Regions from separate parts of the Homo sapiens genome. Here regions 2, 3, 4, 5, 6 and 7 are each linked to region 1. The links come from fine-mapping of genetic effects on gene expression. A gene starts in region 1. Each other region holds a variant in brackets. All regions are shown on one strand. Distances are from middle to middle.

Evidence for each region.
Region 2: its variant is fine-mapped to the expression of SLC66A3 in lung (TOPMed, PIP above 0.99).
Region 3: its variant is fine-mapped to the expression of SLC66A3 in whole blood (TOPMed, PIP above 0.99).
Region 4: its variant is fine-mapped to the expression of SLC66A3 in lung (TOPMed, PIP 0.97).
Region 5: its variant is fine-mapped to the expression of SLC66A3 in whole blood (INTERVAL, PIP above 0.99).
Region 6: its variant is fine-mapped to the expression of SLC66A3 in monocytes (TOPMed, PIP above 0.99). The same link has a PIP of 0.9 or more in T cells.
Region 7: its variant is fine-mapped to the expression of SLC66A3 in tibial artery (GTEx, PIP 0.93).

Annotation. Positions count from the first base shown.
Region 1 is chr2:11,153,889-11,157,956 of GRCh38, reverse strand. SLC66A3 (solute carrier family 66 member 3) reads right to left here and starts at 2,490. Exons shown (of 7, transcript NM_152391.5): 1 at 2,268-2,490. The coding sequence starts at 2,410. It also overlaps a transcript of CIMIP5 not described here. RefSeq lists silencers at 2,074-2,313, 2,424-2,903.
Region 2 is chr2:11,625,397-11,629,464 of GRCh38, reverse strand. GREB1 (growth regulating estrogen receptor binding 1) reads right to left here. Exons shown (of 33, transcript NM_014668.4): 25 at 2,361-2,503. Among named protein-coding and RNA genes, the nearest start is that of NTSR2, 43 kb to the left of the region's middle. The variant C/T (reference allele first, on the strand shown) is at 2,309.
Region 3 is chr2:11,223,628-11,227,695 of GRCh38, reverse strand. It overlaps ROCK2 (Rho associated coiled-coil containing protein kinase 2), which reads left to right. Exons shown (of 33, transcript NM_004850.5): 6 at 298-442; 7 at 3,236-3,374. Among named protein-coding and RNA genes, the nearest start is that of SLC66A3, 70 kb to the right of the region's middle. The variant T/C (reference allele first, on the strand shown) is at 2,400.
Region 4 is chr2:11,359,718-11,363,785 of GRCh38, reverse strand. All of the region lies in intron 2 of PPIAP60 (peptidylprolyl isomerase A pseudogene 60), which reads right to left. Among named protein-coding and RNA genes, the nearest start is that of PPIAP60, 10 kb to the right of the region's middle. The variant G/A (reference allele first, on the strand shown) is at 2,010.
Region 5 is chr2:11,326,969-11,331,036 of GRCh38, reverse strand. All of the region lies in intron 1 of ROCK2 (Rho associated coiled-coil containing protein kinase 2), which reads left to right. Among named protein-coding and RNA genes, the nearest start is that of ROCK2, 16 kb to the left of the region's middle. The variant G/TG (reference allele first, on the strand shown) is at 1,937.
Region 6 is chr2:11,186,615-11,190,682 of GRCh38, reverse strand. All of the region lies in intron 32 of ROCK2 (Rho associated coiled-coil containing protein kinase 2), which reads left to right. Among named protein-coding and RNA genes, the nearest start is that of SLC66A3, 33 kb to the right of the region's middle. The variant G/A (reference allele first, on the strand shown) is at 1,991.
Region 7 is chr2:11,292,353-11,296,420 of GRCh38, reverse strand. All of the region lies in intron 1 of ROCK2 (Rho associated coiled-coil containing protein kinase 2), which reads left to right. Among named protein-coding and RNA genes, the nearest start is that of ROCK2, 50 kb to the left of the region's middle. The variant C/T (reference allele first, on the strand shown) is at 2,268.

The DNA.
Region 1 (4,068 bases):
GGAAGGCTGCAGGCAGGGCAGGTTGGATGAATCTTGTGCTCCAGGAGGCTCCTGGCTGCAGAGAGCAGGGAGGCAGAGCCCAGCAGAGCCCTGGAGGCAGGAGAAGCAGCAAGGTTGGGAACTTGCGAGGGGGAAGGCTCCAGCTACAAGGAATGCCCCTGGGTGGCAGAGGCAGGTCCCTGGGCAGAGGCTCCTGCCCTTCACACCAAGCCACACTAAAAAGGCTTTTCTGGCATTATTAAGACACACTTCATGCTCCAATTGACTCAGTGCTCTCAAAACCAGGCTCTTAGTTTGCTCAAATGGAGACCCAAAGAGGGCCCGTGCCCTCCAGGTGGCTGACTGCGACAGCCCTGGGGTTCCTTCTGCTCTAACTCCGGCTGCTGCCTGATCTGGTCAGGGGCCCGGGGGCCCAGCTGGCAAGCATGGCCAGCCCCAGGTGGGCCTCCCAGGCAAGGCTGGGAAGGGCATGAGGGAGGCAGGCAGGGAGACAGGAGGGCCAGGAGGATGGGTCCTGACACAGCCAAGCCCATTTTACAGAAGTCTGTGTGCCTGGCCCTGGCCCTGGCTTGGAGGCTGCAGAGCTGGTGCACCAGCCCCGACAGAGCCCCCTTTACCTGCACGTGATCAACTGCAAGACCCTTAGACAGGCCAGCAGGGATGGCAGCAAGCTGCTGCCCCACCCAACCCTTGAGCTCCCATGCCCAGGAAGATCCTTCCACTGCCAGAGGTCTAGCTTTCACTAAGGTGAGCTGGGAGAGGTGACAGCTGGCAGATCTAATAGGAGCCCTCACCTGCGTATCTCTGAGGGTTTGCATTTTTCAAGCAATGCTGCAAAAGTGGTGGAAATGCAGGCCTAGGGGCTGGCGGCAGGAGGGAATCTATAGACTCTACAGACAGCCTGGCTTCTTTTCCTTCATGGGTCCAGCTTCAGCTTCCCCAGCTCAGGGACCTAGCAAGGGGCCGAGGCCAAATCCCACTCCTGGCTTTCATGCCCTTGTCCCCTCTCCCACCTGAACAGTCACCACAGCCACTTCCAGCCTGTGTCCTTTGCCACAACCTCATCGCTCCAGCCTCTCTGCTCCCAGCCTGGTGGTGGCACCAACCTGAAACGCATGCTGCCCACCTCCCCTGGGTGCCTCTCAACCCTGCCATCCAGCCTGGGACCCCCCCCTCCCCACCCCGCAGGGTAGAGTCACTCACAAGCCTGGAAGAGGTCACAGTCCCTCCCACTGCAAGCCTTTCCCAAAAATTTCCCCTCAAAGCCCCCTATTGGATGACTGTGCCCAGGGCCGGGCTCCATAGGGCCGGCGCGGGGTCCAAAGCCTGAGTGGGACCCCTCACCCTCCCACACCTGAGGTCTCCTCTTTCTCCCCCGCACCCCTTGGCTTCTTCCCATCCTGTATGCCGCACCCCCCACCCCGCCCACCAGGAAGGCTTGTGTGGAGGACCAGGCTTCAGACCCCACTGGGTGATGGCGGGGGGCAAAGGGGAAGGCCTGGCCTGGCCAGGGGGAAGGGGCGAGACCACTAGGTTGAGGTATGTGTTTTCCTATTGTTGGGGCTCAAAAATGATACCCCAAAAGTTTGGCGCTCTGGCATGATGAATACTTTGAATAGGAAAGCCTTAGAAGCTGCCTCAGAATCAAGGATTTAACGACCTTTCCGTCACCCCTTCCCAACTGCAGAGACTCTCCAACTTCCTTACAGATGACTAAGGAAACTTCTTTCTACAAGAAATGCAATTGTCTTAAGACCCTCTCCCAAGGAATCTCATTAAATAACCAGGAAAGATTCCCCACCAATCACCGGGAGAAGAGAAGAGATTCATACATTCTTAGTTCAACCCCTTATTTCACAGGTGAGGAAACCGAGGCCCGAGAACGAGGTTGACGGTGCGTGGTGAGTTTAGGGACAATGAATATGACAGCCTCGAGGTGCAAATGGCCTTGCTCAGGGCCAGCAGGTTTTGTCACTAGCGCACCAAGGGCTGCCTCCGCTGGGTCTGTTTTCTCATCTGTAAAATGGGCGTGCGCAATCAATTCGTGCCACGCGGGGCTTGGTGAGAAACAATGTACGCGGGTGGCGGGTGGCCGTGGGAAGAGCACCCCGAGCCCCTAGGCTCCCTAGTTCACCCTCGGCCGCCCAGCTGCGACGCCGGCGCGCGGGGATCATCCCCGCCCTACTTCGAGCCGAGGCTCTCCTGGGCTCCCAGCCGGCAGCAGCTGCGAGGGGGCAGGAGGCAGCCCCGGCCGCCCCGGGCCTTACCCTGCCAGCTCCAGAAGTAAACTCGGAAGGCTGAGGCCCCGCGCGCTGCGCGCCGCTAGCACAGCGGAGATCTGCGGCAGCTTCAGCGCGGCGCACACGCCCAGCGTGCTCCAGTTACACAGCCCCAGCAGCGCCGCCTCCATAGCGCCACGGGCGCGGGCACCTGGGCGGCCGCAGCGAGAAGGGACCGCTCAGCCTCGGCGGCGCAGCTCTGCCGAAGCCTTCCGCCTTCCCGGGATCCGCCCGGGACCACCCGGCCAGGGCCCGCCCCTCCGCGCGCCGCCAGGCCCCGGACCCGCCTCGCTCCGCCCCTCCCCTGGACGCACCCCGCCCCCGGGCCCGCCCCGCCCCTCCCGCCCGGGCCCGCCCCGCCCCGCCCCTCCCGCCCGGGCCCGCCCCGCCCCCTGGCCAGCCTCATCTCGCCTCGCCTACGGGCCCGCCCGGGCTCGCTCAGTCCTCGGACTACCCTCATCTCGCCCCGCCCCCAGATTCGCCCCCTCCCGGTCGGCCTCACCTAGCCCAATCCCGTGGCCAACCTCGCCTCGCCCCGCCCCTCCTCGCCCCGCCCCTCCCCTCCTAGCCCCGCCCCGGGCGACAGTCCCACCCTGGCCTGCGGGCTCCACCAGCAGCTGCTTCGCATTTCCGCGTTCTTGCCACCCGATAGTTTAGCCGCCGCCGGGAGCCGCCCTGGAAGTCCGGCTTTTCCACGGGTTGGGTGGACCGAGAGGCAAATGGCCCCGGGGGATGGGCCATTCTGCCGGGATTTTTCCCTCCCTGCAAGTGTTTTAGTTTCTCTCACTAAGCATTTCAGGAGTTAAAGCCTCCTGCTTAAGGGCTGAGTGCACCCTCCCGACTTACAGGTGGGGAACCAGGCTGGAGAGACTTTCTGGGACCAGAGCCCCAGGGTCGCCTCATTTGTGCCCTTTCAGAGCACGCGGCCTGTCTCCAGCCTGGGACTGAAGGCTTCCCTCCTAGCGGCGTGGGCCCTGAGGGGCCACCGGAAGCCTTGAACTTGAGCACTTCACAGTGAAACTGTTTCTTAAGGATTTCTCCTGATAAAGTAACTTGGACGTGGCCGTCTAAGCCACAAACTGAGGGAAAGGGAAGGACGCATTTTCCAACCTCTGAAAATCGCCTGTGTATTAGGGCCTGGTTATGAAGCAGGCAAAAAAGCACCAAAATGCAATGCCAGAATCCACGATCCCTGGTTTTGTGCCATAAATCTCAGCCGGGAAGTGTGAGGGACGGGAGCTGGGTCAGCTTCGGAGTTCGGAATTCTGGCCGAGGCTCTTTCTCTCCAGCCTCACCGGCCCATCACCTCCGCCTATGGAAAAAAAAAAACAGGTGCTGAGTCCTGCCTCCCAAGTCTAAATGAGAAAAGGATGTTCAGAAGGGAACCCTTAAAGGAAACGGCTTGGACCTGCCCTGGCTAGATCGATACTGATCGTTATTGACCCCGCGAAGCGGGAAGATTGCTTGAGGCCAGGAGTTCAAGACCAGCCTGAGCAACATAGGGAAACCCCCGCCTCTACTAAAAATACAAAAATTAGCCGAGCGTGGTGGCGCGTGCCTGTGGTCCCAGCTACTCGGGAGGCTGAGACAGGAGGATGGCTTGAACCCAGGAGGCGGAGGTTGCAGTGAGTCGAGATCGCGCCACTTCACTCTAGCCTGGGAGACAGAGCCAGACCCTGTCTCAAAAATAAATAAATAATATGTATATAAATTTTTTGAAGAAGAAAATAGAGAAGAGCTTTTTTTTTTTTTTGAGACGGAGTTTCACTCTTGTCGCCCAGGCTGGAGT
Region 2 (4,068 bases), 470 kb before region 1:
ATCCTACAAAGCAGTACTGTCATCATCCCCATTTTACAGGTGTGAAAACTGACATTCAGAGACCTTGGGCTCTGTCACCAAGTCACCAAGTCTGGCTGCGCCCTTAGTCACCTCCTCCAGCCTCCACTTCCCAGGAGCCTCACACCCCACATCTGTGCACGTGCTGCTCTGGGTGTGACCTCCAGCGCAGCTTTGCCCTCAGCTTGAACGTCCTCTTACGACCCCACCGACCCACGGCCCTTCCTACTGACATCCCCTCCTAGCATGTGCTATGCATGCATCCAGGGTCTGCAGGGAAGGAGGCAGACGAGCACACACTGCTTTAATCTCTGCCATGGCTCTTCTAGACCCACAGAGCCCTTTCTTTGGGAGCAGAGATGAGGGAGAAAGGGATTTTGACTCGGGGAGGCAGTTAAGGAGGACACACTGAGGCAGTTTCATAAAAAAGGTCAAGGGAGCCTTGGGAGGCAAAGGAAGAGAAAACAGAACGAGCAGGTGCAGGCCACATGGAGAGGGCAGCCAGGGGGCCACGCGGCCTCTGCACCCGCACCAGCTGGTTTCAAGCCCCCTCACCGTCCCAGGCATGCTCCTCTTCCACTGTGGCCCCCAGACCTGCGCACCCCTGAGAACACAGGCCAGGCACAGCCCAGCCGGCTGCCTCTCCTCCTCCTCTGCACTCTGGTGTCTGTTGATGCAGCCCGAGGTCCTGATGGCACTACCCACTCCTGACACTGACAGGGATGAGTAGGGACTGACACCCTTCAGTCCCTTTCAGTTCCCTACATTTCAAAATCAAGGACGTGTTTTCATGTATGTTTTTGTTTGCCTTAAAAGAAAAACTACATCTCCAAGAAACAAAATGTTAGGAGAGTTTATCTGGAACAAATGGGATTACTGATTATTTTGACCCTTAAAAAATTGCTCATATGTTCTTTCTTTCATCTACAGTACAATTGCACACTCAAACAATGAGTGCTGCGTCCCCGGCAGCCAAGCTCAAGGCCAGGCAGACAGGTGCTGTTTCCCTCTGTAAAAGGGATGGAAAGAGAGGCCAGTGCTCTTGCCTCAGGCCTTTCTGAAAGCAGCCCAGGACATCAGCTACCCTACATGCCTCTGCTCCCCAGCCAGGCATCTGACTAGCTCCCACCAACTCTGGCTCTCTCCCTCCACCCCTCTCTCCCTTGCTCGGGTCTGAAATGAAAAGAAATATTCAATGTAAAATAAATCCTCTGCCCTGTTTATAAATAACCAGCCTCACAGGCCCTCCATACACCTCCATGGGACTAAGAGACCAGTCTAAACACAGCTCTGCCCACACTGGGCTCCACTTGGAGTTCCCACTGAGAGAGTCCTCGTTCCTCCCCACAGTGCCCACCAGGCATTTTGTGGTCTGGCCTCTGCCTGCCCTCCGAGTTTCGTGGCTGAGTGTACCCACCCCAAAGTCTGGGTTCCAGAAACACCCAACCCACATCACTTCCCATCCCCTGGAAACCCCACCTCCCCTCTCCCACACATGCTGTCCCTCTCCCTTCATCTTATTAATTCTTGGCACCTTGGCAAATTCTTATTAATTCTTCCAAATCTTCTCTCTTCCGCTCCCGACCCAAACAGGATCCTCATTTATAAAACAGGGACAATGAAATTTTAGTGTGAAGTAAATAGGACACTAGATAGGACAGCTCCCATCCAGCACACCTTGGGTGGCTTGCAGGCGTGGCTTCAGGTGACCCACCAGGGCCTGAGGCAGCCAGAGCCCTGGGTCAGGAGCCTTATCCATTTCTATGTGTCCAGGATAAATATTTTCTATTGCATAAAAGGTTGGGAGAGACTGATATATAAAAAGTGCCTAGGCACATTGCCTGGCATGCAGTAGGTGCTCAATAAATGCAAATTCCTCCTCTTATCAATGGATTTCTGTGCCTCAACCATAGTACTCCTTTTGCCTGCTTCATATCGTTAGGTTTTGCTTATGTGCACATCTCCCTTCTAGACTGAGCATGGAGGATGGGGACAGAGTTGATTCAGCTCTGCAGCCCCAGTGCCTGGTACAGAATAAGCACCTGGTGAGCATCTGTTGCATTGGACTAACTTCTGAAAGCATTGGGACCTAAAGATGACGACCACCTCCACGGTCGGGTAACTTGGCCACTGATAAACACACAACCCCAGGAGAACCGTGGTGCTCTAGTTCCAGCAATCATTTCACAGACAATTGAAGGGAACAGAGGATGCAAGCAGACCAGGAAGCCAGGGCTTCCAGAACTCTCTATCTCCCACTCTGGAATGAAAGCGTGAGAGAGCAGGGGAA[C/T]GGACAATGTGAGCCAAGGTGAAATGCCTGGTGGGGAACTGCTGGGGCCTACCTGGTAGCGGGGGTGGAAGCCCATGTACTGGTGGCACTGCTCACAGTGGTGGTAAGTGTTGTACGCTGCGTACTTGGACAGTCTCATCCGTGCCGTCTGACGCCGCACATAAAGGTCCTCCGGCTTCCGGGACATCCCTCTGTCTGCACCAAATTCCCCAGGATTAAAAAGCAGCAGGGAGCAAAGCAAACATTATCCCCTGCCTGCTCAAACAGAAACCAAAAATGCTCAAATGACCAGACAACAGGATTCTGTCTGGTTGGGGAGGACTGCCTCTCACCTCCCTGGGCCCTGACGTGACAGCTGGTCAAAGGAGACAACGAAGGGCCACAAAGTGTCAGTGGAATAAACTAATTAAGGCACTGTCCATATCATGTCTTACTGTAGACTAAAAATATTTCATCAGCACCTATGTAAAGATCCGCTATACAACAATTTAAATCGATTGCCAACTTAACATGCCAGCTCTGAATGCAGATGAACTGCCCCTTGTTTTTCTGTTTTTGTTTGTTTTTTGGAGACAAGGTCTTGCTCTGTCGCTCAGGCTGGAGTACAGTGGCACAATCTCAGCTCACTGCAACCTCCGCCTCGCAGGTTCAAGTGATTCTCCTGCCTCAGTCTCCTGAGTAGCTGGGATTACAGGTGCACGCCACCAAACCTGGCTAATTTTTGCATTTTTTGTAGAGACGGGGTTTTGCCATGTTAGCCAGGCTGGTCTTGAACTCCTGACCTCAGGTGATCCACCCACCTCAGCCTCCCAAAGTGCTGAGATTACAGGCGTGAGCCACCACACCCGGCCCCTGCTTGTTTTTCAAATGACCTCGCCGATTAAGATTTTAACACTCAGCCTTCATTAGAGACTGGCCTACGAGAAGGATCCTCAGTGCAAGGGATCTATTCTGAGAGCAAGGACAATAAAGTTGTTGGTTTGAAATGGAGACTGGTGGGTCACTGATATGGTTTGTCTGTGTCCCCACCCAAATCTACCTTGAATTGTAGCTCCCATAATTCTTACATGTTGTGGGAGGGACCTGATGGGAGATAACTGAATCATGGGGGCAGTTTCCCTAATACTGTTCTCATGGTACTGAATAATTTTCACGAGATGCAATGGTTTTCTAAGGGGTTTCCCCTTTTGCTGGGCTCTCACTCTCTCTTGCCTGCTGCTATATAAGACGTGCCTTTCACCTTCCACCACGATTGTGAAGCCTCCCCAGCCACGTGGAACTGTGAGTCAATTAAGCCTCTTTTTCTTTATAAATTACCCAGTCTCAGGTATGTCTTTATCAGCAGCGTGAAACGGACTAACACAGTCATTTCCTTTCTCACGGCATTTACCAAATTTTTCTAGTCTAAGTTTATAATCGCAATGGCCCCGGTACACTGCAGCGCCAGCACACCATGGATGTTGGGGATCCCTGAGGGAGGGAAAAATCAAGACACCGGGGGAGGAGAGGTGAACACGTGTACTCGTTTTGATAACTCCAAATTAATAAGTAAACATACACGTCTTTTATCCTCTATTAACCACAGCCTTCAGAATATTCCAATGGTGACAAATCAGCAAGGGTGTCGTCATTGTCACTTAGCACTTCCTGAGCAACACTCTTCAATTCACAGGTTTTGCATTCCTCCCTTCCTTATACAGGGAGGTGGTGACCTCAGTTCTGTACTAGGTATGGCAGGTTAATTCATCACCACCTGATTT
Region 3 (4,068 bases), 70 kb before region 1:
AAAGAAAAGTTGTTGATTTGCATGGAATCTCCATTTTACCAAACTTTTTTCTTCTTTCATTGAGGAAGCCTCCTGTATTTTAGAGTTCACAGTTTATTCCTATCTCCCATAATTTAGGCATTTTAATGCATTTTCCAGTGTATTTATTCTCTGTATCCTGAAGTCATGTCAGCAGTGAAGTTCTGTTGGTTAGCAATATGTAATCATTGTATATCTAGTAATAAATGGATTCATTGCATTTATAAGTGTGTGTTTTTACACTGAACTGTTTTTTCTTTATCTCTCCTGTTCATGCAGACAGGCATGGTACATTGTGATACAGCAGTTGGAACACCGGATTATATATCACCTGAGGTTCTGAAATCACAAGGGGGTGATGGTTTCTATGGGCGAGAATGTGATTGGTGGTCTGTAGGTGTTTTCCTTTATGAGATGCTAGTGGGTAAGTAAATATTTTAACTTCTTTTTTCAAAATGCTTCTTATAATACTTTATTTCAGTCAAGAATTTGAGAATATAAGGAAATTAATTGCCTTTGTCGTAGGGAAGAATTAGATTTCTGGAAACTTTGAATTAGTAGTATCTGATAGGGCAGACTGTTAATTGGAAAATTAATACCAAGCCTGATACTGGCATGGTGATTAAATAGAATAAGTAGAATGTAAAAAGAATTAAAAATATATCAGACATTTTTGAATTAAAATATTAGAACAAGAAGCAAGTTTACAGCTTCAGTGGGCCTTCATTCTAAGATTTTCCTTCTTTTTTTTTTTTTTTTTTTTTTCTGAGGCAGGGTCTCGCTCTGTTGCCCAGGCTGGAGTGCAGTGGCATGAATGTGGCTCACTGCAGCCTTGACCTTCTAGGCTCAAGTGATCATCCCATTTTGCCTCCCGAGTAGCTAGGATTACAGGCACATGCCACTAAACCCGGCTGATTTTTCTCATTTTTTGTAGGGAGTGGTCTCATCATGTTGCCCAGGCTAGTTTCAAACTCCTGACCTCAAGTGTTACTCCCACCTCAGCCTCCCAAAGTGCTGGGATTTTAGGCATGAACCACCACACCTAGCCCTCTAAGATTTTCTTGATCAATCATATTTGTTATAATATTTAAATATAAGACTTAATATTTGTCCCAATAGTAGTAGAGAAGTAAAAATCTCTTTAGTTTATGTAATTACATAATTGATTTCGTAAACAACTGTATTCCTTCCATTTACTTCTTGCATATATATTGTTTGTAATTCTCGTGAAATAAATTATAAATACAGTGTTTACCATTTGATTATCAAGATAAATATATTTTGTAATAACATTTCAGTTTTAGAAAACTCAGAGACAGATTTAGTTATTTCTTCTTTTTTATGACCAAATCAAAATTTGAAAGGCTGAAGTATTTCAAAACTTTCTTTACATCATAGATTTCATTCCTAATGTTTCCCATTTGTAAGTACTGGGGTCATAAAAATACTAGTACCTTCTGGCTAAGGAAGCCAGTGACGTGGCATGGGGATGAGGGTTGAAAATGTAGTTAAATCCACTTTCCAAGGCAAGTATGTCAAGGCTAATAACATAATATGGAATTAATTAGAGTTAAAAATATACTTTTTAGAATTAGAGAATATATTTTCTAAAAGATGAGCCTAAAAGAAATGGTAGTGTAAAACCTGTATGATAAAAGACTATGGTTATTGCTAAAAAATCAGAAATTTTCGGTAAATTGCAAATTTAAATAATAATTACTCTTGAACTTTTTTGTGGCATAAATTGTTTTCTCTTGATGACTGTCTTGTGTATGTAGCATTGATCTTGTTATGCTTTGTTTCATGTCATAGTATGACCTACTTTATTTTGGGCCTTTCAAAGTGAGTCTGTTTGTACGCATCATATGGTCCCATGTAGCTGTCCGTTCTCCCATCTCTGGCCTAGGTTGTGTCTTGTAATCTTTTGAAAATAGAGTATATTCTCTTTTTTGCCTAGACACGCTTTCCTAGGGATTTACAAAATAAGGTACTTTAGAGGAAGTAATTTGGCTTATTTGATGAAGAGGCCATTTAAATTCTCACGACTGCCAGGCTGGGTGGTGCTAGCTCAGCTCTTCAGGAGGCTGAGGCAGGAAGATCACTTGAGCCCAGGAGCTCAAGGCCAGCCTGGGGAACATATGAGATACTGTGTCTAAAAAAGTAATAATAAAAGAGTAAAATTAAAATAAATAAAAAATTTTTAACATAAGAAAGTTTAAAAAGTTAAAAAATAAATTAAAAAATAAAAAATAAAATCTTGAATTCATCACTTCCCTCCACCTTTCTTTGAACACAAACAAAAATAACTACCTGAAGACATTTTTTGAAGTTTTGGATTGGCTGATTTGGGAAAGTCAGGTTTTCATTAAAGTTACTTGTAG[T/C]GTAGGTGTACTGGCAGAGCCTGTAACACTTGTGGCTTTAGCTGAGTACTGGCCAAAATGGTGCCTTCAACATTTTCCATCTTTATACTTGCTTCAGTGCATCTATTACAGTCATTAGTAAGAACACTGCATGGGGAGACCATTTCTTCCCTCTTTCAACTCTAGCTATATGTCATTTTAAGCTAGTCACAGTCTGTCTCTCTGGGCCTGACTTCCTCTTATGTAAAATAATAGAGCTGGTTTAACTCTTGCAGCAGCCCTGTCTGGCCTATCATGATGTAAATGATTTAAATCTGTGCTGTCCAGTGTGGTGACCATTGGTTACAACATGACTTAAAATGTGGCTAGTATAACTAGGGAATTGTGTTTTTCATTTTATTTAATTCATTTTAACTTTAAATTGCCACCTATAGCTAGTGGCAACTGTGTTGTATAACATATCTCTAGAGAATGATTTCAAAATGCTGATCCAGCCCAAGCATTAAAGGACCCTGACTGATCTGACCCCACATAGGAACTCTTTCTCTTGGACTATTCAGTAAAACATTTCCTCTCTTAAATTAAAAAAAAAAAAAACTCAACAAATTCGGGAGTTATCATTGATTTTATTTTGCTTTTAAGGGATGAGGGATCATTGGTGGTGTTAAATTTTAAATATATTCTTTGATTTAGAATATAACAATATGTCTGTTGTTTTGACTGGGACTCTGTGCCCGTAGAATATTTGTTCTTCCCTGCATGTGACAAATTTAAACTTAACATATTTAAGTACTAGGTGAAAAGTGTTTCCTTTGCATTCTCTGTTACATTCAGTATCTTCTTTCTTGAAATTTTAGGGGATACTCCATTTTATGCGGATTCACTTGTAGGAACATATAGCAAAATTATGGATCATAAGAATTCACTGTGTTTCCCTGAAGATGCAGAAATTTCCAAACATGCAAAGAATCTCATCTGTGCTTTCTTAACAGATAGGTAATGTACATTGAATTTCTTTGTAGAGAAGCCCTTTATGTTAAATTTATAGAAATAAAAGCATGCCTAGCTTATTAACATATGAAATCAGTCTGCCTCTCATTACCCAAGTAGCATCTAATTCTGGGTTAGCCTTTTCCTTCTGCTAAGCCTGGTGTTGGGCTACCTTGTTGTTATGTGTGTACAGCCCAGTTGTAATCGAACTCTAACCTTAACCCTCATGTCTAAAAAGGAAAAAATAGAACGTGGTAAAACAATGGATTTGAAAGAAATAAAACTTTCGTGTTGTTCACATTTTATCCTCCAAGCTGGTTATTCCATATTACTCTTATATAACTTTTGAGAGTATTTTGTGTAGATAAATACTCAACAGGTTATAATCTTAAAAACTATTTGTGTTAGACTTGGGAGTGCTTCCTTCCCAACCCTTTTTAATTTGCATTTGAATATGAGCAAGACTATCCTGGAAATTCCATACTTTTAAAAACAAAATAGATGAACAAAGGTGTGAAAACCTGCCCCCAAAAGATAAGCTAGAAAACTATTTGATTTCTCTTCTTTGTTCACCCCATTCCATTTTTTTCTAATGTCCCGTTTTATATTTGTGATAGGAGTCATCCTGTCAAAGGACCAACATATACAAGAGGATGCTCACACCCTCGTTCAAACTTACACATCAGCTTTATGATCTTGG
Region 4 (4,068 bases), 210 kb before region 1:
TGAAACGTTTTCTCCGTGCAAAGCCCCATCTGTTTCTCCTAGACAAAGTGAGCAAGCCTGCCTCTGTGGGCCCCTGAACCTTGCTCCTCTCTCCTCACGGCTCCTAGTGTGTACACCCGCGGTGGCTCACGCCTGTAATCCCAGCACTTTGGGGGGCCGAGGTGGGCGGATCACGAGGTCAGGAGATCGAGACCATCCTGGCCAACACGGTGAAACCCCGTCTCTACTAAAAATACAAAAAAATTAGCCTGGTGTGGTGGCATGCGCCTGCAGTCCCAGCTACTCGGGAGGCTGAGGCAGGAGAACGGCATGAACCCGGGAGGCGGAGCTTGCAGTGAGTCGAGATTGCGCCACTGTACTCCAGCCTGGGCAACAGAGCGAAACTCCGCCTCAAAAAAAAAAAAAAAAAAAAAAAAATCTGCTCTCTGACTCAACTTTGATCACTGATAGTACTGGGACTTTTGTCTTCTTCCGTTTGTTATTCCCAACATCTAGTACAGCCTCTGCCACCAACTGATATTCAATAAATATTTATTGAATGAATGAATGAGGGCATGAATTAAGAAAGTTTAGTTTCACGCTTAGAGAAACATCACGCCAGGCTTCAGGGCCAACGGGAATCCATCCCAATTCCTGCTACAGACTTACTGATCCTGTCAGTTGTAATCAGTCAGAGAAATCATCCCAGCATGCTGGAACTAGGTAGAAACCTTGTTTTGCACATGATGAAACTGAGGTCGTAAATGTGAAGGTTGCACAGCAAATTCCATCAGAAGTTGTCTGAGATAGCAAGACTGATACCCATGCATATCAAGAGTCATGAATCACCAAGATCTCATCCCTAATTCTAGTGCTGTGTCATACATTATTTTACTTTTCAACAAAATAATGATGATTCCTTAAAATTGTGTAGCACTTTATAACTTACAAAGTCCTGTAAAAAAAAAAAAAAGACCTCTGAACTAGCTATTTGTGGTTAAGTCACTTGCCAGAATCATTCAGTTCTTAAATGATGGATCCAGGGCTAGGACTCAAGTTTTTGCTCTATGCCCAGTGTACTCCTCAAGATCCAATGTCTGCCTCCAACATTACAATAAACGGTGGTTAAATAATGATTCTAGGCTCACTCCTGGGAAAACATTATCATTTCTAATCAATATAATCATTTCCTATTTCTAAGAATTTTCTGAAGGCGACATAGACCAGACTTGTCAAACTTTTACATAAGAGAGCTGATAAGATCGAAGCATGGCTATAAGAAGGAACCAGAGTGTCAGGTCTGTGTGTGTGTCTGTGTGTGTGCACGTGCATGTGTGCATGGATGTGTAGTGTGTCAGTGACTCTGCATGTGGAATACTTGGTAAAGGCTTTAGGAACTCAAAAGTGTGGGTGGAAACAAAATAAGCAAATCTCCAATGCACAGCATCTGCATAGAGTGTGACCTTGATAAATACTTGCCAATGAATTAATATGCCCTGTGTTAAAAAATTCTCATATAATTGTTGTGCCCTTAGCCAGTATTTCCATAGAATGACTTTTAACAATGTAAATATGTCTTCCAAATAACTAAATTTATTCACTCATGCTTTCATCCAACAACGAACGCCTGGCCAGGTGCGGTGGCTCACACCTGTAATCCCAGCACTCTGGAAGGCCAAGGCGGGTGGATCACCTGAGGTCAGGAGTTTGAGACCAGCCTGCCCAACGTGGTGAAACCCCGACTCTACTAAAAATACAAAAATCAGCCAGGCAGAGTGGCAAGCACCTGTAATCCTAGCTACTTGGGAGGCTGAGGCACAAGAATCACTTGAACCCGGGAGGTGGAGGTTGCAGTGAGCCAAGGACGCGCCACTGCACTCCAGCCTGGGTGACAGAGTGAGACTTTCTCTCAAAAAAATAATAATAATAGTAATAGCCAGGCGCCGTGACTCACGCCTGTAATCCCAGCACTTTGGGAGGCTGAGGAGGGCAGATCACAAGGTCAGGAGATCAAGACCATCCTGGCTAAC[G/A]CGGTGAAACCCCGTCTCTACTAAAAATACAAAACATTAGCGGGGCGTGGTGGTGGGAGACTGTAGTCCCAGCTACTTGGGAGGCTGAGGCAGGAGAATGGTGTGAACCTGGGAGGCGGAACTTGCAGTGAGCCGAGATCGCGCCACTGCACTCCAGCCTGGGCGGCAGAGCAAGACTCCATCTCAAAAATAAATAAATAAATCATCATCATAATAATAATGGAGGCCTATAGGTGCCAGACGCACAGTTTCCCCATAACACAGCAGGAAACTAAACAGACAGACCAACGTCTACTCTCATGGAGTTTACATTTTTGGGGGATGCTAGACATGGATAATAACCACTCGGTTATATATTATATTAGGTGATAAGTGGTATAAAAAAATATGGTTAGGCCAGGTGCGGTGGCTCACGCCTGTAATCCCAGCACTTTGGGAGGCTGAGGTGGGTGGATCACGAGGTCAAGAGATCGAGACCAGCCTGGCTAAAATGGTGAAACCCCGTCTCTACTAAAAAAATACAAAAAAAAAAAAAAAATAGCCAGGCGTGGTGGCGGGTGCCTGTGGTCCCATCTACTTGGGAGGCTGAGGCAGGAGAATGGCGTGAACCCGGGAGACGGAGCTTGCAGTGAGCCGGGATCATGCCACTGTAATCCAGCCTGGGTGACAGAGCGAGACTCCATCTCAAAAAAAAAAAAAGAAAAAGAAAAGAAAAAAGAAAAATATGGTAAGAAAAGGGGCTTGGGCGTGGGGTGGCTAGGAGTGGGGTGGGGTTGCAATTTGAATCAAGGGGTTCAGGAAGTGACATTTGAACAAAGACCTGTAGGTCGGGTGCGGTGGCTCACGCCGGTAATCCCAGCACTCTGGGAGGCCAAGGCAGGTGGATCACTTGAGGTCAGGAGTTCAAGACCAGCCTGGCCAACATGGCGAAACCCTGTCTCTACTGAAAATAGAAAAATTAGCTAGACATGGTGGCACACAACTGTAGTCCCAGCTACTGGGGAGGCTGAGGCAGAAGAATCACTTGAACCCAGGAGGCAGAGGTTGCAGTGAGCTGAGATCATGCCACTGCACTCCAGCCTGGGTGACAGAACGAGACTCCATCACAAAAACACACAAAAAATGAACAAAGACCTGAGAAGAAGGGGCACAAACTGTGAGAATATCTTGGGGAAAATCTTAACCTTTTGAACAAACACATAATTTTTAAAACTTTGTTTTTGTTTTTAAATAGCTTATATACACTTGGCTGCCCTGCCCCCCTTTTTTTTTTCCTTGAGACAGGGTCTTGCTCTGTCACCCAGGCTCCAGGCTGAAGTGCAGTGGTGTGATCACGGCTCACTGCAACCTCTGCCTCCCAGGCTCAGGTGATCCTCCCACCTCAGCCTCTTGAGTAGCTGAGACCATAAGCACGTACTACCATGCCGAGCTAATTTTTGTATTTTTTGTAGAGAGAGGGTTTCACCATGTTGTCAAGGCTGGTCTCAAAGTCCTAGGCTCAAGTGATCCACCTGCCACAGCCTCCCGAAGTACTGGGATTACAGGCATGAGCCACTGCACCCAGCCTACACGTGGCTGCCTTCTGAGAGGATCTAGCAGGTAGTTTAACATGTTCCTGATAATTCGGGCATCTCTGTGATTGTCAATGCTGGGCACCATGTAGTGCTGTCCATGGAGGTGGAGATGGTGGAAGCTCGGAGGACTAGAGGACTATTTGCCCCCCCGCTAGAGGGCTCCAATCTGTTTTTCTTCTGCATTAATTCTATGGCATCCACTCCTCTCACACCCTATTATTTCTGGTAGTGTCCCAGCATCACTACGCCATGCGTTTTGTCTGCTTTTTCGTAATACATCATTGGTTTGTTAGGATTGGGTCTAGAAGATAAAGACTTGAGCAAAAGGCTAAAATGCAGTGCACAGGCTTTATGACATCTGCTCTGCCTCTCTGCCTATTCACATAGGACATTTTTTGCTTATTTCCTTACTCTCAATTTCCTTTCTGACTGTCTGAATGCCAAATAATTAAATCCCTGATTTGGGAACTGTTGCTAATTAATAC
Region 5 (4,068 bases), 170 kb before region 1:
CTCCCTCCTCCTCCCTCCTTCTTTCTGCTCCTTCCTCCCTCCTCCTCTTTCCTTCTCCTCCCCCTCCTCCTCCCTCCTCCCTCCTCCCTCCCCCCTTCCTCCCTCCTCCTCTCCTCCTCCCTCCTCCTCTCTCTTCCTCCTCCCTCCTCCTCATTCCTCTTCCTCCCTCCTCCTCCCTCTTCCTCCCCCTCCTCCTCCCTCTTCCTCCCCCTCCTCCTCCCCTTCCTCCTCTCTCCTCCCTCCTCTCTCCTCCTCTTCCCTCCCTCCTCCTCCTCCCTCCTCCTCCTCCCTCCTCCCTCCTCATCTTCCCTCCTCCCTTGTCTTCCTCCTTCCTCCCCCTTCTCCTTTTTTTGAGACTTTTTTGAGACGCAGTCTCTGTCACCCAGGCTAGAGTACAGTGGTGAGATATCGGCTCACTGCAGCCTCCGCTTCTTGGGTTCTTAAAAGTTTTTCGTTTTAAAACCAAAAGGAAAAGAAAGTGTATTAGCACAGTTGTCATGAGCTTTGATGCCTACAAGATCTAGTGAAAAATGTGTTTTTGTATGTTGAAATCCCTGTAAAAGTATTTTGTATATTAAATATGAAAATATTAGTATGATTTTGAAAAATGTATCACCTTTTTCAGATAACTTTGTTGTTTTAGAGTTATAGTTTGTGGGATTTTTATCTCATGGCTAACAAAACTACATACCCTGTGGCCAAGGCACAATTCAATAACGTGGGGCTCTAGAGTGACATATAATAAAAGTATCTTTAAAGCCCTAAAGATTTATGACATTTTATCTTTTGAAATATTGTTTTCAAATAATTGCTGAATAGAAAGATAATTAGAAATGTGAAATCTGAAACTAGGTGATGCTTCTTTCACTGACTGAATATATTTCTGCAGTTATTTTTAGAAGAGTGTTATGGATGATTTAGAAACATTTTTATTGGAAGTATTTTTCCAGTTAGAAACATTTTACAATCTGGTGATGAGAATTCCTAATTCCATAATACCTCAGTGTTGTACAAGATGCTCCAGCATTTCTAAATATTTGAAAAAAATGCAATTAATTTGAGACTTCATGAGTCAGTTATGACATGTTCATGCTAAAAATATTCTCAGGCATTATTTCTTGCTGTAGCTTAAACGGAATATGCAACTCATGGTTGCAACATTTAAAATTAGAATATGGATAATGTTTATGTTGTTATATTCAGGTTAAAGAAGAATTTAATCACAAAAGCAAGAGAACATTTAAAGAATTTAATCACAAAAACGAGAAAACGCACCTAAAGGATTTTGCTGATAGTTTTGTAAAACAATTTCTGCTGCAAGCAATTTTTTTTTTTTGTAAAAATGGGGAGGCTGTAAAGTTATAAATTTTGAATGCTGGAAAACAGATTGTTTTCCATTTTTAAGACATTTCCATAATAGGAGAACAGCAGATGATACAAATAAAACTAAATTTAGAACTAATAAAAGGAAACTCTAGTACAAAATTGGCTTGTAAAATTTTCTTCTGAGGGAAGTCATAAAATATAACAGTGAATAAATTTTTAAGAAGTTACGGTTTTTTTTTTTTTTGGAGATGGGATTGTTACAAGCTTTTAGTATAGGGAAGTTTTGTCTTTCTGGATGATATAATGTAAATATTTGGTGTAGTGTTTTAATGTGCTTTCCCCTTCTTTTAAACAGAACTACTCAGTTTGACTCTAGTTACAACAGATCTGTGAAATAAAAGTTTAAAAATCTGAACAATGCCTTATTTCAAATGATTTTCTATTAATAAAATTCCACCAAAGTACATAAAGAGGATCCCTGTTTGATCTCATTAACATATGAAGGTTAAAATGAATTTTTTTCTTAAGAGTTTCCCCACCAAGGTAGTGAAGATGGGCAAAAAATGAAGGAAAATGACTTGAATTTTTAATTTCAAGTGTATTTTTTTTT[G/TG]TTTCTTTTTTTTGCATTTTTAAAAAAATTATTATTATACTTTAAGTTTTAGGGTACATGTGCACAGTGTGCAGGTTAGTTACATATGTATACATGTGCCATGCTGGTGTGCTGCACCCATTAACTCGTCATTTAGCATTAGGTATATCTCCTAATGCTATCCCTCCCCCCTCCCCTCACCCCACAACAGTCCCCAGAGTGTGATGTTCCCCTTCCTGTGTCCATGTGTTCTCATTGTTCAGTTCCCATCTATGAGTGAGAACATGTGGTGTTTGGTTTTTTGTCCTTGCGATAGTTTACTGAGAATGATGATTTCCAATTTCATCCATGTCTGTACAAAGGACATGAGCTCATCATTTTTTATGGCTGCATAGTATTCCATGGTGTATATGTGCCACATTTTCTTAATCCAGTCTGTCATTGTTGGACATTTGGGTTGGTTCCAAGTCTTTGCTGTTGTGAATAGTTTCAAGTGTATTTTTAAAAGAGAGAGTAGTATAGTGGAAAGAACATTGGATTTGGAGTCAGAAAAGCTAAGACTGGTGTTAATTAATGAGATGTTCTAGTGATTATCTTCTTGATTGTGAGTAATTTATAGGACTATTTGCCTTCAAGGAGTTGTGAAGAATACAGTGAGAAGCTAACTATATGTGCTAGTGTTCTGTAAACTGTACAGAACTTTAGCTTTTTTACAGACAGTTGAAAAACTATGTGTATAACAGCCTATATTGTTTGTGTCTCTCAATGTATGTGCATACAAAATCAACCCTCTGATATTAGCCTGTTTCCCCCCCCAAATGTAGCATATTATTTGGCACATATTAGCTTCACTAAGTGTTAAATAAATGAATGAAAATTGTTGGCATTTTTGTGTTCTTAATTCACTGCGTGTAATTAGTCGCATTGGGGTTTTGGATGGATCTTTACAATCTAAGAGAATAGTAAGACAAAGTCTTGGTGGGGTTTATGGCTCATAGATGATGGACTTTGGGGATAGAAGTTTCATATCAGAGATGTGGAAGGGAAGAGAGTGAGCAGGACCAGGGATAGAGGCAGTCTTCTTTTCACTGATAATCTGAATATACCATGTTCTCTATACTCTTTGCCCTTGTGTGTACCTGGATTGCTCTGTCTCCTTCTCTGTTTTGTCAGCTTATCACAAAAACAAAAACAAAATAAAACAAACTTCATTTTTTAAATTACAAAAGTAACATATGCCCCTTTAAAAACGGACAGTTGGCCGGGCTTGGTGGCTCACACCTCTAATCCCAGTGCTTTGGGAGGCCAAGGTGGGCAGATAGCTTGAGCCCAGGAGTTGGAGACCAGCCTGGGCAACACAGTGAAACCCTGTCTCTACAAAAAATACAAAAATTAGCCAAGTGTGGTGGTGTGCACCTGTAGTCCCAGCTTCTTGAGAGTCTGAGGTGGAAGGATTGCTTGAGCTGGGGAGGTGGAGATTTCAGTGAGCTGAGATTATACCATTGCACTCTAGCCTGGGTGACAGAATGAGACTCCCCCTCTGCCTCTTTCTTGGCCATGTTCTCTTTCTCATTGAAGACACAGGCATGTGGCTCACAATCTTTCCCCATAAGGCTTTGCCACCATTCGTGGTGAATTTAGAGTTTATGTGAACAGAGGGCCCAGGACTCTGGCTTTATAGTTTCCCAATTTCATCATCTCCAGTTGTCTTTCTTTTCGCTTAATTCATTCACTTAATCCCATGGAGCTACTCTGGACCTCACCATTACCTGAAAATTGGCTTTACCTTTGAGGTCTTAAATTTAAAACACTGTCCTGGCTCTGACTGTAAACTTTTGAGATCTGTAGTTCCTTGACATCTCTAAATGGTTCCTTTACTAGCAGGCAGGAACCCATTTTCCATCACTTTAAACTTCTTGCCAGAATCCTCAGTGTCCTTGTCCTCATGAATTTTCATCGTATGTATCTGGCAAAACCTAAGTTCTGGATCAGTTTGTCTCTTTGGCCAACAAAAAAAGCATTTGTTGAGCAGTGATGGATAAAAATCACACACAATTACCCAGATTAGTGGTACTGCAAATTCATGGTCTCTAGTCCCTGAAAGAGCTGTCAGGGCTGCATTGCAATTCTTTTATTCTCCATAGGGGCTATTT
Region 6 (4,068 bases), 33 kb before region 1:
TATGGAATAGAATAGGTATTGTTATATTTGTTTTTGATTAAGACTCCAGAAGGGGTTTGTCTAGATCTAGAACTATAATAACTCCAAATATCCTTTTGATACATTTTTTTCTTTTGTGCTATTTGACACATTAATGATTTCACTACATACGATAACATATATGGAATTAGTTTATGAGGCACGCTCCCAGTTATGTAACAGGCTGTTTTTATGTACACTGACTTACAAATACCTTCCTTTCCCAGTCCAAATCAGCATTATGGTCTATTTGAGAGTACATTTACTTTTGATTTTTGTTACTTTTTTTTTTTTTTTTAAAAAACTTCTGGCCTTGCCCTGTGAATCATTCTTCATTGATTTTTTTAAAAAACACATTTTGTCATAGCAACGGTAAGTAGTAAGGATTTCTTTCCCTCATATCTGCATGTAAATAAAACTAATATCAAAATTGACTGTAAAATGTGTAGTGTATATTTTGTGAAAAAATTCATTTAATACATTCTTTGAAATTCTAAACATAAAGGTGGTCACATTTATAATATAATTTGGATTTTGTTGTACATCTGCAACATTATTTCCATTGTTTTTGGCATTTGAGTCTCCATTGTTTCATGTACTCCTAGCATTGTGTCTGTATCTCTTACATGAATCAATCAACCTGCATTTTATTATTATTATTATTATTATTGAGACAGGGTCTCACTCTGTTGCCCAGGCTGGAGTGCAATGGCACGATCATGACTCACTGCAGCCTTGACCTCCCAGGCCCAACTGATTATTCTCCCACCTCAGCCTCCCAGAGTAGGTGGGACCACATACATGCACCATGACACCTGGCTAATTTTTTTTTGTTTTTATTTTCTGTAGAGATGGGGGTCTCCCTATGTTGCCCAGGCTGGTCTCAAATGCCTGGCCTTAAGCAATCCTCCCACCTCGGCCTCCCAAAGTGCTAGGATTACAGGCATGAGCCACCACGCCTGGCCAGTATTCCATTTTGAATGTCACATTTTAAGAGTCACTTATACAAATTGAATGGTATATAGATGAGAATAACAGAGGTTGCAGTATGTCATTTGAAAGTATTATGTAGCAAGCGAAGGAACTGAGGATATTTTGTTCTCTAAAGACATTATTTGAAAGTGTGAGAGATCATAAATAGCACTAAACAGTTAAAGACCTTTTCCTTGGAAGATGTATTAGAAGAAGAACCAATCAGAGAGGCAAATTGTAAATCTCATTGAGTAGCATGGTTCCAGGGAGGAATCAAGCCTCAGGCTGGATGGTTTTTAACATTCTACTGGACTAAAGCCCATTCAGTATACAAATGGGTGGAAATGGTAAAGGGTCATCCAAGAAAACAGAGGCACAGAATTGCTGGTGTGTCTCAGCAGTGATCTAACATCTAGCTGTTCATTTGAGTTTGTTTAATATTAGTCTTAGCATTAGTCAATCTAGCTTTAGTTGAACTAATTTGACATGGTATCCTTCTTAAAACAAAGTTTGGCTTTGTTAGATACATCAAATATAAAGTGAACCCATAAATGTTCACTTAACCATTTTTGGTAACTTTTCCTCTGTGTCTTTCTTTGTGGTCATCTGCCATTACATCATTACATCTTTTTCTCTTCTTTTTTCTTTTTTTTTGTGACATGACGTCTCACTCTGTCACCCAGGCTGGAGTGTAGTGGCGTGATCTCGGTTCACCCTAACCCTCCACCTTCCAGGTTCAAGCAATTCTCCTGCCTCAGCCTTCTGGGTAGTTGGGATTACAGACATGCACCCTACAAAATTAGCACTTTGGGAGGCCGAGGCAGGTGGATCACGTGGTCAGGAGATCGAGACCATCCTGGCTAACACAGTGAAACCCCATCTCTACTAAAAAATACAAAAAATTAGCTGGGCGTGGTGGCAGGCACTTGTAGTCCCAGCTACTCGGGAGGCTGAGGCAGGAGAATGGCGTGAACCCGGGAGGCGGAGCTTGTAGTGAGCC[G/A]AGATCACGCCACTGCACTCCAGCCTGGGCGACAGTGAGACTCCGTCTCAAAAAATAAAAATAAAAAAATAAAAATAAAATAAGACTAGAAATTAATTGACAGTTCATAAAAATAATGTATAGAAATGCTATTCTACAGGAATGTTTTCTTGGTACTTTTGAATTAAAATTAAAATGCCATACTGGAAAAGTAGGAAATTTGTGAATAAAATGCTAATTTTTGATGAAGACAATTTGGGGAGTCCTAATTTGTTTCAATGCAAGATAAAAATATACCAGTCTGGGCTGGGCGCGGTGGCTCACACCTGTAATCCCAGCACTTTGGGAGGCCAAGGCAGGTGGATCACCTGAGGTCAGGAGTTCAAGACAAGCCTGGCCAAGATGGTGAAACCCCATCTCTACTAAAAATACAAAAATTAGCCAGGCGTGGTGTCAGGCGCCTGTAATCCCAGCTACTGGGGAGGCTGAGGCAGAGAATTGCTTGAACCCAGGAGGTGGAGGTTGCAGTAAGCCGAGATCGCACCACTGCACTCCAACCTAGGCAACAGAGCGAGACTCCGTCACACAAAAAAAAAAAAAAAAAAAAAAATTATATACCAGTTTGGCTAGAGGGTATTTCTCTTTAATTATTTTTCTTTTAAAGATTTTTTTTAACGCAGTATTTAATGCATGCAGAAAAGTATAAAGCAAAAATGTAACAAATGCTCACTTACCGAGTTTTAAGAAGTGTAAAACATGGCAGCACAGTTAAAACTTAAAGGAGGAAGTAGCTATTGTGTCATTATTATCTTATCTTTGCTCTTCCTCATTTCTAAATGTTAAAGAATTAACAGTCTACTTGGGAAAATAATGAAGTTATATACAATTTGAAGTGTCAAAAATAAATCCATAGGTGAATATATACCTGATCTTGAATTGGGGAAGAACTTCCAAATAATAAAAGCAAAGAAAACAAAGCCAAAGATCAACTACCCCAAAAGTAAAGCCTTGTAAATTTAAAAAACACCATGTATTTCCAAAATATATGAGAAAGATGAGTTAGTATCTTCACATACGAAAAGTTCTTATAAATCATTGAGAAAAAAGATTGCCTCATCCCCATACAAAATTAATGAGGCGCATGCAGGCATTATTATGGAAATAGCTGTTAAATGTAAAAAAAAGTGATCAGCCTGATTACAGTAGTCCCCCTTTATCTCAAGGGATATGTAGTCCAAGACCCCCAGTGGATGCCTGGAATCACGAATAGTACTGGACCGTACACATACAATTTTTTAAAATCTGATAATGAAGACCATTAGTAAGTGACTAACAAGCATGGATATGCTGGACAAAGGGATGACTCACATCCCAGGCAGGACAGAGTGGGATGGCACAAGATGTCATCACGCTGTTTACAACGTTGGGCAGTTTAAAACTTCTAAGTTGTTTTGAGCTTTTCTATTTAATGTTTTCAGACTGTGGTTCACCACTGGTAACTTGAAACCATGGAAAGTGAAGACAAGGATATGGGGGGACTACTGTATTAAGAAATTAGCATTAAATTAAAACTATAACATAAAACCATTTTTCACCTGCCAAACTGGCACGGGTTAAGAAACGAAATGGGTACTTTTGTGGACTGCTGGTAGAACTCCAAATTAAATGCACTCTTTCCAAAGCATCTTTGACAATAAGTTTCGCAGGCCTGAACTATATCCCTGTTAATGGTGGAGACAGTCAAGCAACAGGCAATTACAGTACTATGTAAAATGCTGTTTATAATATAGGGATGAACAGAGCGCTTGGGGAAACGAGGGAAGCATGGAGAATTCTGCCTGAGGACATTAAGAAAGATCTCAAACAATGGAGGATGGATAATTTTACAAGCAGACAAATAAGGGAAAATCAGTTCCAAGCAAAATGTCATGTGCAGAGGTACAAAGTCATCAGAATTACTTATGTATTTGTAATTTTGTGTTGGCTTGGCGTTGGGAGAAGGCAAGGGTAGGGAGTGGTAAAAGATGATGTGACACTAGAGAGAAAGTCTGAACCCAACTGAAAAGCTCCATGTACACTGTGCTCAGGAGTTTTGATTT
Region 7 (4,068 bases), 140 kb before region 1:
GTTTATTTAATTGACAATTGACTAGAAACAGGCTGGGAAGACTGTTTCTTGTCATTAAGTGTGAATATGACCAAACTGTTTTACCTTCTAATAAACAAAACTTTATCTGTTTGTTGTATCTTTTCAAAATTTAAGAAATACTGGAATAGCTCTATATTCAGAGTAGCTTAGCTATCTATCTACTTAACTGTATATCCACAAATATTTTACAGACAAATGTTGCTTTGTAATTTAGTTGGCCATTGTCATCTCCAGCATTCTTAGTTACTAGATAGACTTTATAGGAAAAGTTGTTCCTCCACCATCTTGCCCCTTCAGCTCCAAAATGTCCATGAAGTGTAGGTTATTCTGCTTTGAGACCCTTTGTTTTCTCTCTCTCTCTCTCTCTCTCTCTCTCTCTCTCTCTCTCTCTCTCCTCTCTCTCTCTCTCCTCTCTCTCTCTCTCTCTCTCTCTTTTGTTTTTTGAGATGGAATCTCGCTCTGTCACCCAGGCTGGAGTGCAGTGGCGCGATCTCGGCTCACTGCAAGCTCCGCCTCTTGGGTTTAAGTGATTGTCCTGCCTCGGCCTTCCAAGTAGCTGGGATTACAGGCGTGTACCACCACGCCTGGCTAATCTTTGTATTTTTAGTAGAGACGGGGTTTCACCATGTTGGCCAGGCAGGTGTCAAACTCCTGACCTCAGGTGATCCACCCTCCTTGGCCTCCCAAATAGTTGGGATTACAGGCGTGAGCCATCATGCCAGGCCTTCTCTTAAGGTAGTCTGGTCTTCCCTGGAGTATCTGTAATGGAGCACTATATAAACAGATCCTGCCATCAGTGTATTTAAAGTACTGCTGCTGAACGATATTATGAATATCAAAATATTGAAGCCATATAATTATTCTGTGTACTGTGAGCACCAAATAGGAAAATTAATAAAACATAAAACCAGCAGGCCTTTTGGGGGTATTTTTCTTGCATGTATGTGTTATATCCTGGATGAGATTTTTTTTTTTTGCCCTAAAGTCTATCTGTGATACTTAACTGTACAAGTTTCAAATATGGAAAATACTTTTTAAAAAGTCTAACTTGCCTACAATCAGAATAACAACTCTAATTTTATCTGGCCAGTAGTTTCTCAGTTGAATACCAATATTAAATTAAGAATAGGATTCAGTCAGATGATGCATTACTTTTTCTAATATTTTATAATAGGTGTGTAAATTGCCTGTTTTCTGTTTTATAGGGAGTTTCAGGTAACATTGTATGTAATTTTTGAGGAGAGAAGCTTTTTTTAATAGAGGAAAAGATAAAATTGTTGATTTATAAGCCATAAGAAATCTAGTAATGCAGGCTGGGCACAGTGGCTCACACCTGTAATCCTAGCACTTTGGGAGGCCAAGGCGGGTGGATCACCTGAGTTCAGGAGTTCGAGACCAACCTGGGCAACATGATGAAACCCCGTCTCTACTAAAAATACAAAAAAGTAGCCGGGCATAGTGGTATGCGCCTGTAGTCCCAGCTCCTCTGGAGGCTGAGACACAAGAATCACTTGAGGTGGAGGAGGAGGTGGAGGTGGAGGTTGCGGTGAGCTGACATCATGGCACTGCACTCCAGCCTGGGCAACAGAGCAAGGCTCTGTCTCAAAAAAGAAAAATAGTAATACAAATATAATTTGATCTTAATTTTATTCATGTGTTTCTAAACAATATGTTACATTATGTATTACACAAATAAAATAATAAAACAATGTATTACATTATGAATGCAATTTGATTCATATCTTCCCATCAACTTAATATTTTAGAAGAAAAAAATCAGAATTTAATTTAAAAAATACCAATAATTATTCAAAGCAGCATTGGGCCCAATACCAACCTTAATGCTTCTAAGCTGTGCAGTTCTGGGAAATGGTTTAAGTTCTCCAAGCCAAATTTCAACTAAAAAATATGGTGATATTAAGACTGTATAATTAACACCATATAATTCCACCATATAATTAACACCATATAATTAACACCATATAATTCCACAGTCTGTTAGGAAAATTAAATAAGGAGATGTTATATAAAGTGTTTGGCATCATGTCTATCCAAGAACTCTGCAATAGCAGCTGCTTTATTATCAGCACAGAGCACTATCACCATTAGAACAATTACCAACTTTACATTTAATTCTTCTAAAACCTTGATCAAATCAATAATGTGATTTTTTGCTCTTTCCTTTCTTTCCTTTCTTTTCTTTCTCTCTCTCTTTGTCTTACTTTTTTTTAAATTTTTTTTTGAGA[C/T]GGGAGTCTCACTCTGTCACCCAGGCTGGAGTGCAGTGGCACGATCTCGGCTCACTGCAAGCTCCACCTCCCGGGTTCACGCCATTCTCCTGCCTCAGCCTTCCAAGTAGCTGGGACTACAGGCGCCCGCCACCATGCCTGGCTAATTTTTTGTATTTTTAGTAGAGACAAGTTTCACTGTGTTAGCCAGGATGGTCTCGATCTCCTGACCTCACGATCCTCCCGCCTCGGCCTCCCAGAGTGCTGGGATTACAGGTGTGAGCCACCGCGCCTGGCCCGTACGTTCTTTTAAAATCAGAATATGCTATCGTTAATGCCTCTCTCATTGTAAAGGTTCATTCTCTTTTTAGGACCACGGCTGAGGTTAGGGTGAAGCCATTCAGGCACTTGGAACAAAATTTGAGGGAGAACCCTAAAAAGCCACAGTAATCAAGATATTTTAATGTAATATTTTAAAAATTAATGCAAAGACTCACTATGAACAGAATATCAAACTCAAAATTTTAAAGAAAGGCAAAATCAGGAAGAGTACTGTGCCAAGCCATATTGGCATGTGAGGCAAAAAGGAAAAATTAATAATACTGGTCCTATCTTGCCATGCTGAGCCATGTTAGAGCCTGAGGCTCAAGGAAAAGTCATAAAAACATTCCTATTGCTCCTGTCTTTTGCCCTAGGAAAGTTTCTTTCCCTATGCCAGGCCTTGCTTTAACTATTTAAATAGCCAATTTTTAAAGAACTGCTCACCAGAATGATTTTATAGGCTATGAACTCTTTTTTACAAACGAGGGCCCTAGAAGTTGGGTGAAATTACTTGTGTAGGGTCACACAATTTTATCTTTTCCTCTATTAAGTTTTTCTCCTCAAAGTTACTGCTAACCTCTGAGTTGCTAAATTCTCAGTCCTCAATTAAGTTGACTTAGCCGTCCTCAATTTAAGTTGCCACTAAATGGCAGAACCGTGATGATGTAACCCAGGTTTCTTAACTTCTAGACTTCCTTTACTTTATTATCTCTTTATAAAACACATCTGTGTATTTGTTGGCTCATTACCCTGAGACTGGGTAATTTATAAAGAAAAGAGGTTTAACTGACTCACAGTTCCCTAGGCTGTACAGGAAGCGTGGCTGGAGAGGCCTCAGGAAACTTATAATCATGACAGAAAGCAAAGGGAAGCAGGCATATCTTACATGGCTGGGAAAGGAGGAAGAGGGAGAAGGGGGAGGTGCTACACACTTCTAAACCAGATCTCCTGAGTACTCACTCACTATCATGACAACAGGGAAAAGTCTTACCCTGTGATCCAATCACCTCCCACCAAGCCCCTCCTCCAACATTGGGGATTACAATTTGACATGAGATTTGGACAGGGACACAAAAATCCAAACCATATCAACTATTTTAGTTATGTATTTGTGTTTGGAGTTGAAATAGCAAACAGAGGAAATGTGTTACAAATTCATTTAAATAACATTTCCTGGTCACTAATCTGTACAGCAGATACACAGAAATATGCTTCCTATGCTCTGTAACTAACTGTTTCTTTGGTTGTCTTGACTTTAAAACTTGTTTGTTATTTAGTATTCTTTTAGAGGAATAATTTTACTAATTAAGTTTATTATTTTATTAACTTTTAAGTTCAATATTGTTTATAAGAGCATCATAAAATTTTAATTCTGTTACATATAAGCTATTCTGGCTTGGACACATTTTTTAACCTTTTAACCTTTAAGCTTCAGTTTCTGTGCCTACTAATGTAGGTATGACAATAGTATTAACTTATATGCTGTGAGGAATAAAATGTT